Linked DNA regions of Homo sapiens. The protein of the gene in region 3 interacts with the protein of the main gene of each other region in a pairwise test. Each region holds a gene or a part of one and is shown on either strand. Other genes may lie near its edges. The genes, in order: SSX4, ZNF440 and PAX9.

Region 1 (3,743 bases), on a different chromosome or scaffold from region 3:
AAGAGTGTGACTCACTGAAGGCTCAGAAGATTGTTAGCATTTTTTATCGATGAATTATTTTAAAATAAAGGTATGTGCATTTTCAGACTTAATGCTATTGCACACTTAGTAGACTGCAGTATAATGTAAATGTAATGTTTTTATGCACTGCAAGACAAAAAAAAAATGTGTGTGACTCACTTTATTGCAGTGGTCTGGAACCGAACCTGCAATATCTCTGAAGCACACCTGTATTGGGTAACAGGCATTGAGCTGAGTAAGATATGATCCCAGGTTATCACAGATAGAATTGCTTGAGCACCTTTCATGTCATCAGGCCTTCTAGATTACATTTAATGTCTCCAAACAATTTATGAACTATGATTCTTTATTTCCATCTTATGGACTAGGAACCTGGAGCTGAGGAAATTTGGAAGACTTTCCCCACGTCACGTGGTTTTTTTTATATGGATGACAACTCCAGTCTGTGTCTCTGGAAGTCATGTCTAACATCTCATCTGGAGCTAGGCGAGCTCCTCAGCCCAGCCTGGACCCTGGCTTGTCTGGGGTCCATGCCACACACCCAGTCCACGCACCTGAACACAGCCAGGGAAGCCAGAGGGGTTGTTCCCGAATTCTTTCCTCTTACCAGATGTCTTGTTAATCTTCTCCAAGGTACTTGGATTTCCCGGGGGGCACAGCTGTTTCCCATCATTTTGTGGGCCAGATGCCTCTGGCACTTCCTTCAAACCATTTTCTTCCTCTGCTGGCTTCTTGGGCATGATCTTTACAATGTGAAGGTCGCAGATAAACAGTATCAGTGACATTTCTACAGTGCTTTAGAGCTTACAAAGGGTCTTCACGTGCATTAGCTTATTCAATGCTCTCAACAAGACTGGGAGAGTTACACAGGCCTAAATTAGGAGAAACCTGGGAGGTTAGAAGGGAAAGGAATGGCCTAAACGAATGGGCTTTCCAGGGCTAGAATGCTTATCTTCACACTCTTTTAAGACTCACATTCTTGCAAACAGCAAAAATCTCCATTTAATTGAGAGTTTGGTATACAGAAGATTTGGAGAATAGCATTCTAAGAATTCACAAGGTCTAGAAAAGAAAGAGCTTCTATAAAATACAAGGGATCCCATATAAGCTTGTAGACAGCTGCTGGGAGAGTAAATGTAAAAACATAGAGAGGCGATAAAACACTGCTGGGAAAGATGGTGTGGGGAGATGAATACAGGGACAGGAGAGGTAAAGAAATGGTTTGCTGAAATTAAACTAGGCAGCAAAGAAAGCAGTACCAGACATGGCATACTACCCTACCGAGGCGCCAACATTGAATGTGGAATTAAGTGAGGTGGTACCCATACCAACTCTGGTTGCATTGGGATGTGTCACTGACCAACGACCTTAAGCTACTTCTTTTTCCTTTTTTTTTTTTTTTTTTGACACGGAGTCTTGCTCTGTTGCCAGGCTTGAGTGCAGTGGCGCGATCTCAGCTCACTGTAACCTCCATCTCCCAGGTTCAACCATTCTCCTGCCTCAGCCTCCAGAGTAGCTGGGACTACAGGTAGGCTCTAACACGCACCGTTAAGTTTTCTATTTTTAGTAGAGACAAAGTTTCACCATGTTGGGCAGGATGGTCTCCATCTCTTCACCTCGTGATCCACCCACCTCAGCCTCCCAAAGTGCTGGGATTACAGTCGTGAGACACTGCGCCCAGCCCTTAAGCTACTTTTTATTCAGCTTCCTCACTTACGAAATAGTCAACAGTACATGTAAAATAGGCTACAAGAAAGTGCTCTCTGAGCTTGTAAACACTCTTTAAATGTAGTAATAATAAAAAACTAATACTTTTCATGATCCTTCTTTGAATTTGGTCTCCACACTGGCAACCCAACTCCCAGATCCCTTTACCCTCCAAACCAGAGTTGGATCTGCAGTTGTGGGATCACTCATTCAGGGGCCTTCGAGGGATCCCCTGGGCTGGGACGGGGGCTTCCCGGATGCCCCAGGTGCACACAAGGCCATCAAGGAGCTCACAGTAGGGAGGGGCCAACAGTCAAAGCGATTCCTAAGCCATGTGAGTGGCCCCGGTAACAGAGCAGAGGCCAGCTGGTCCTTCCTGTTGCGAGAGTGGGTGTCTCAATGGAAGCACCAGGAGGCCCTATGGGGTGAAGCCCTAGTGAGCAACATCTGAACTTCATAAACAAATGCAAACGTGAATGAGCTTTAAATGGCTTGGAGCTCTGGATTAGACTACCACTGCCACTGTGCCTCAGGAAAATTCTTTAACATCTCTGTACCCCGATAGCCTCATTTTATTATTATGTTGCTGATAACTACGATCTAAAACATGAACTATGATTCTTTACTTCCATTTCATGGACCAGGAGTCTGGATCTCAGAGAACTTAGAAGATTTGCACCAAGTTACATGTCTTTTATATGGGTGACAATTGAAGTGTGTGGCTCGATAGTATTTGGAGATAGTAATAGAAACATCGTCATAGAGGTCTTCTTAAGGATTAAATAAATTAACCCATGTGAACTGCTTAAAATAGTAATCTGGCATCACTATGAAAACCAAAGAAGTATTAAGGATCACAACTGTTAATATTAGCAAGCCGTCGGTGCCACATAAGTTGTTGTGATAGACATGGGGAGAAGGAGGCAGTGAGGGCATGTTTGATATTCTCCCACTCTTATCAGTGTTCGCATCCGTGCAGGGACAAACGTTCTCTGGTCCTTTAGATTTGAGAGACACTCACCTTCGGGAAGATTCTCTGGAGGCTGCCGAAAGTCATCTGAGGACGTTCAACTGAAAGAGAATACATCAGAATTTTTCTTTGTTGGTAAAGATTTCCAAACTCTAGAGAGACTTCTGTCGCATGAGGGCATTCTGCAGCAGAGGTTGTGAGTCCACTCATTGTTGAGGAGTTATTTGAGATTTGCTTCTGAATTATGTTTAGTCATGGTTGGTGCATTTATCTGTGGCATCAATTCAGAATTTTCCATCTCGTGGTTTATCACATGGGTATTAAACCCCATCACAGTCTCATCTTTTTCCATTACATATCTTTTACTTTTTCCCAAATAGTTAAATTGATTGGTTGGGAATCTAAACTGTAATCACTCAAGATGTGCAACAACTAAAAATCACTGTACACTTCAAATGGGTGAATCTTATGGTATGTCAATTAAGCTGTTAACTGTGTGATGAACCATCGATGATTTAGTCCAGTGGCTCTGAAATATTTTCAGTATAAATATTTGGCACTCATTTAATGTCAAAAACTTGGCAGATACTCAAGCACTGGATTTTCAGACCTCTTATAGTGACTGTGGGAGATCGTAGAATCTGGCCTGTTTAGTTGGGAAGTAATAGGTCTATGGGAGACAGTCTGGACATTCTGACCTTGTCTTGTAACTGTGTTCTCAGAGCAGAAGAGCAAGTAAACACATATGTCCCCTTTATATTCCTGAAATGCACAAAGATCTCTACGCGAAACTTGTCTTTTTTTCACCCTATGTTATCTCTGCTCACTGAGAAGTGGGAAAGCTCTCTGTGTGCTGGATGAGGGATCACTCTTTCAAACTCTCTTCCAAGCTCATCACGGAGAATTGGGGTTGTTGGGGAATGTGAGGACTATTTGGTTTTGATAAAATACAGAGAAACAGCGACGCTTATTACATAATGTGTTCATCACCCTCACTCCTAAGATACTTATCCAATACCTACATGCTGTTAATGAAACAAACTCT
Region 2 (2,222 bases), on a different chromosome or scaffold from region 3:
AGGCTGTTGACAAGTTAACCTCAGCAGCACATTATCAGAGAAAGTTAGCCTCAGCAGCACATTATCAGCAGCACATTATCAGAGAAATATAAGACAGGCTTGTATTTAGACAATTTACACAAATTTATTAGCCTCCTATGACTCAGTAAAGCAATTTGAAAAAATATAGCTTTATAAGGCATAAACAAATTTATATGTTTTAACTAAGGTACTTTCTGGTAAACAGTGCCTGTACATTTTAGGAAATATTTTAGTCTTTAGAGAATAAGTAAGGCAAAAACAGGTCCAGGAGTTTACAGATGCCCTCCCCTCACCACAAGGCCAAGTCTTTTTTTTTTTTTTTTTTTTTTTGAGATGGAGTCTTGCTCTGTCGTCCAGGTTGGAGTGCAATGGCGCGATCTTGGCTCACTGCAAGCTCCACCTCACAGGTTCACACCATTCTCCTGCCTCAGCCTCCCAAGTAGCTGGGACTGCAGGAGCCTGAGACCACGCCTCACTAATTTTTTGTATTTTTTAGTAGAGACTGGGTTTCACTGTGTTGGCCAGGATGGTCTCCATTTCCTGACCTAGTGATCCGCCCGCCTCGGCCTCCCAAAGTGCTGGGATTATAGGCGTGAGCCACCGCACTCGGCCCTAAGGCCAAGTCTTTTTTTGTGTTTTTTAAGACAGAGTTTCACTCTTGTTGCCCAGGCTGGAGTACAATGGTGCAACCTCGGCTCACTGCAACCTCTGCTTCCTATATTCAAGCAATTCTCCTATGTCAGCCTCCTGAATAGCTAGGATTACAGGAGCATGCCACCACGCCCTGCTAACTTTTGTATTTTTAGTAGAGACGGGGTTTGATCATATTGGTCAGAATGGTCTCTAACTCCTGACCTCGGCCTCCCAAAGTGCTGGGATTACAGGCGTGAGCCACCATGCCCAGCCAAGGCCAAGTCTTTTATTGTTGGAGAGACACGTGTCACATACCAGGCATATGAGACGATGCTCCTCAGTGACCATGATGAATCAGGACAAAAACAAGGGCATTTTGTAACTATATTTTTAAATGTGATAGAGGAAAACGTATTTCAAATCATAAACATGACCAAAATTTTTCTCTTCTTACTAATGTGACTTGTAATTCTCATACATCTCACAGTCATTTATGGCTTTTGGTCATATTTATCACTATGGTATATTACACCCTTGCTGACAGCAGGTATGGCACTGCTGGTTTTGGGGAAGAAGGCACTCAGAGGTGCATGAGATAACTATTGGTATTATGACTGAATGAAAAATTAGGGTTGCAGCTGGGCATGATGGTTCATGTCTGTAATCCCAGCATTTTGGGAGGCCGAGGTGGGTAAATCATGAGGTCTGGAGTTTGAGACCAGCCTAGCCAATATGGTGAAACCCCGTCTCTACTAAAAAATACAAAAAATTAGCCTGGCATGGTGGCGCATGCCTGTAGTCCCAGCTACTCAGGAGACTGAGGCAGGAGAATTGCTTGAACCCTGGAGGCAGAGGTTGCAGTGACCTGAGATCATGCCACTGCACTCCAGCCTGGGTGACAGAGTGAGATTCTTTCTGGGGGAAAAAAAAAAAGAAAGAAAAATTAAGGTTGAGATAAAAATGTAAGTACAGAAGCATGAAAAGTAAAATTTTCGAATAAAAAGATGTCTGGCATTTTATCCACATGGTTATACTGACTCACAATGTCCAAATAATAACAATTTAACAGTATAAGGCTGATCTAATACATGACACCAATGGGATATTATAGCTTCTTATTTAAAAAGAATATCATTTGTTAGTATACAGTTATTATAAACAGTTAATTGTTTACATTCATTATCTGTATTCAAAGAATCTTGTCAGGTCTGAACGCTTTCCCATACTGCTTACATTCATAGGGTTTTTCTCCAGTGTGAGTCCTTCCATGCATTTGAAGGTGCGAGGCTGATCTGAAGGCTTTCCCACATTGCTTATATTCATAGGGCTTCTCTCCAGTGTGAGTCCTTTCATGATATTGAAGGGAACTAGAAGAAATGAAGGCTTTCCCACTTGGCATACACTCATAGGGTTTCTCTCCCATGTGAGTCCTTTCATGATATTGAAAAGAAGTGGAAGAAATAAAGGCTTTTGCACATTGCTTACATTGATAGGGTTTCTCCCTAGTGTGTTCTTTCATGATATTGAAAAGAACTGGAAGAAGTGAAAGCTTTGCCACATTGCTTGCA
Region 3 (3,743 bases):
TCATTCTTCTTGTGATAACCTTAACTAGAAGAACTACATTGCATCTTATATATTTTTTTCTAGACTATTTCCGTTAATGTCAGTGTGATGAAGTTGGTCTTTTCCTAAAAGTATTAAAACAAAGCAGTAACTTACTTTTTCTAGGGTATGCAATTTAGTCTATTTTGCTTTGTATTAGTAAATCTCCTTCTCAAATTTAGGTAGAAGATAGTTTGCTATAGAGAGCACCCTTGCACAGTTCTTTCAGGGGAAAGAATTCTCATGCCTTTCATGGAAGATCCACATGAGAAAGGAGTTGATGGATTGAAGTCTTATTTATGGAATCTTTAGGTAAAGTCATTTTCAAAAATGAGATTTCCATTACATGCCCATTGCTGGGGTTTCATTTGGAAAATTTGTTTACTCTTCCCTGGGGATTCCGTATGTTGGTTGATTTATAAATCATATTTACAATCCAATTAAATAGAGTAATTTAGCATGTTTGCTCCCACTATATTTATAGTGTAGATTTGGTAGTCTCTACTCAGCCTAACTAGCTTTTCAGATTAATTACATGCCCTTCACTGAAAACATTAAACCGATTTGGGACGTTTAAGTCATGTACTCTTTTACTGGAAAGAATAAACAAACATCAATGCTACCTGTAGTTGTTTTCCTTTGCGGTGGAAAATTTTACTTTTTCAGTGATTGCTTCATAAATAACAATTACTTGACCCAGTAGAGATTTATATCTTTTACTAATGTTATGTGTCAAAATTAATAGTGAGAAAATTGATGTGTTTATTGAGTCACTAAAATGAATAAATAATGAAGGTGGCAGGAGGCAGGTAAATTTTAAAGCACATTTACTTGCTCCTTTTTTTTCTAAATTTATAAATCTGAGCTTCAAAAGTAAAAAGTAAAATTAAGACAAAACTCTCCAGACCCCCAAGCTAGGGTCATAATTTAACCTGAGAGAAAACTAAGGGCTATTTTTATACTGTTTAAGTTTAAAGATTTATGTTTGTTTTTTTTTTTAAGCAAACGTTTTAGCCTCTCCTTGCCTTTTTCTTTTTTCTTTCTTTCTTTCTTCCTTTTTTTTTTTTTTTTTTTTTTTTTTTTTTGAGATGAAGTCTCACTCTTGTTGCCCAGGCTGGAGTGCAATGATGCGATCTCGGCTCACTGCAACTTCCGACTCCCGGGTTCAAGCAATTTTCCTGCCTCAGACTCCCAAGTAGCTGGGATTACAGGCACCTGCCACCACACCCGGCTAATTTTTGCGTTTTTAGTAGAGACGGGGTTTCACTATGTTGGCCAGGCTGGTCTTGAACTCCTGACCTCAGGCAATCCGCCCGCCTCAGCCTGCCAAAGTGCTGGGATTACAGGCGTGAGCCACCGTGCCCGGCCGCCTTTTTCTATGAGATGAAATCAACCATCTCCGAGCTTCTCTTCCTACCCTGTCTTTCTGCAGTACAAAGGGATTGCATCACTAAAATGATACTAAATAAATATTGTGGATTTAAGAGAACTTTGAAATATTTAGTACTAAGAATAATGACATAAAGCAAGTTTGTGCATTAAGTATGAGAAGTTGGACAAACATGGAAAAATTTGCTCATTTTTTTACACTTGATAAATGAATGTAATCATGGAATAAATAAGGCACTAGAAGTTAATACAGGCCTAAATCCAATGTCCTGCCTGCCCCTAAATTCCAGGAACATTATCTAAGATAAAAGTTCAATGCAGCATGTCTCTGAGGGCCATCTTCCAAGTGGGTCCATGTAAGGGGACCATAGACATTGCAACAAAACAACTGAAGAGTCCAAGTAAATGGGGCAGATCAATGAGCAAGAGTTCCAAGGGCAAAGGTGTAAGAAAAGGGAAGATGACTAAGCAAGGATTTCAGAGAGAACTGTAATTTTGAATGATAGATAAAATACAAAGAAAAAAGAATGGGTAGGAAAAATTTAGCTGTGATGAAAAATAGAACTCGCCAACAGTTCTGTTCTGCTAACTAGAACATTGTTTCTGCCATGTATAATATTAAATTTTTTAACTTTATGTCCCTATATGATGTTGGCCAAAGATTTTTATTATTTTAGAAGTAATTTTAATGTTAGCATTCTTATTTCATTATTCTTAGTTCACATTGGCATCAGTAGTATAAAACATTAGTCAATGCTGGAAATGAAAATATTAGTTAACACCACATACAGATGTGAACACCTTTCCATAACTGAATTGGATTTATTTCTTTCCAAACTCATTTATCATAGATTATTGGGACAATTCTAAATAAAAATGATTAAAACTATAATCTCTATGCAAAACTAGATTTTTTCCCCTGTAATTTGATAGTTCTCTATCTTGATACCCATCTCCTGAGAGCCTTAAAGTGTGTCTCCTTTGAGACATAATCAGCCATTCTCAAAAAGTGGAAGAAACTATTCTTTTTTTAGAAGGGATCTGACAATGAGAATCATGTTCTAGGAGAGAAAAGAATTTGTTACCAGATGTTATCTCAAAAGATGCACTAGTTTTAAATTAAATTGCATCTATCTTTTAAGTGTTCAGGAAAAACAGTATGATATGCTACAGAGGACCCTGCATTGGGCAGGGGTGATAAATTTTTTTAACACATGGCCACTGGCTTGCCAATTGGTTGAGGGTACATGGCTAAACCTCTTAATCTATATCCTTGTATAAAAAGAGGATAAGATTTCATTTGTATTCAACAGTTATGTGCGGTAGTTTCTTGATTTAAAAAATGCAGCAGCATCATTCTCTGGGACCCTTAAAATACACTTTAATTTCAGTTGAACATTGTGTTGTATTTGTGACACACTATCTTGTAATTATGATAAACTCAATCATTTATAATGAACTATATAATTCATTAATACTCATTACTCAGTAAAATATGTTGGATATTTCTTGGTGCCTGGGACATAGGACACACTTAAGAAACTTTAGCTTCCTTTCTCTTTCCCTATTTTCAAAGAACCAACATTGAAAAACACAACATGAGGTGTTTGTTCTTACAGAGCATAGACACAAGGCTAACCCCTCTAATATTTTTCTTTTTTTGTCAGAAATGCATGAGTAATGTTGTCATACCCACGTATGTATTCTATTCCATGTACATATTCATTTACTCTGCATTGAGAAAATAGTTTTTGAGACCGCACCACTGCATTCTCATAGATGTAGAAGTGAAAACAATAGCCCAAATAAATTAAATTAGAAAGTAATTCCTGTGTTGCAATTGAACGGGAAAAAGTACCTAGCTAACATACATCTGATTAACTTAATTCTAAGGATTAAATCAATTTTCCTCATAAAATTCTAGTATTTACATCGTATTTTCACTAGGAAATATATTGAAATGGTAGTTCATTCATGTAACTATCAGGACACAGCATCTACACTTTATTTCTAAAGAGTATAAAAATTGAGGGGAAAAAATTAGACTACTTGAAGAAGGATGCCCAGTGTTCATGCCAGAATCAGGATTAAAAATCAGGGTGTTTTTAGTGTTGTTAATAGTAACGATACCAACAATAATTCACTGGATGCCAAGACAGCACTGGTTTCTCGGCAGGCTCGCCTGCCGGGACTGCTGCATTGTGTTTGCAAACAAAGATTTTAATTTCTAAATTCACTTCAAGAGATTTATCCACGTGGCTTTTAAAAACTCACATCACAGGACCCAAAAACTTTGCAAGCAAAATTTCCAGTTTCAAAACCAGGCATATGCAGTT

Evidence for each region.
Region 1: the proteins of PAX9 (region 3) and SSX4 interact in a two-hybrid assay, tested with the Homo sapiens proteins (one large-scale study listed by BioGRID).
Region 2: the proteins of PAX9 (region 3) and ZNF440 interact in a two-hybrid assay, tested with the Homo sapiens proteins (one large-scale study listed by BioGRID and IntAct).

Annotation. Positions count from the first base shown.
Region 1 is NC_000023.11:48,386,367-48,390,109, reverse strand, and holds part of SSX4 (protein SSX4), read right to left. Parts: intron 2,800-3,743; coding exon 2,750-2,799; intron 765-2,749; coding exon 629-764; intron 1-628. UniProt on the Homo sapiens protein: Could act as a modulator of transcription.
Region 2 is NC_000019.10:11,833,495-11,835,716, reverse strand, and holds the end of ZNF440 (zinc finger protein 440), read right to left. Parts: 3' UTR 501-2,222; downstream 1-500. UniProt on the Homo sapiens protein: May be involved in transcriptional regulation.
Region 3 is NC_000014.9:36,671,780-36,675,522, forward strand, and holds part of PAX9 (paired box protein Pax-9), read left to right. Parts: intron 1-3,743. UniProt on the Homo sapiens protein: Transcription factor required for normal development of thymus, parathyroid glands, ultimobranchial bodies, teeth, skeletal elements of skull and larynx as well as distal limbs.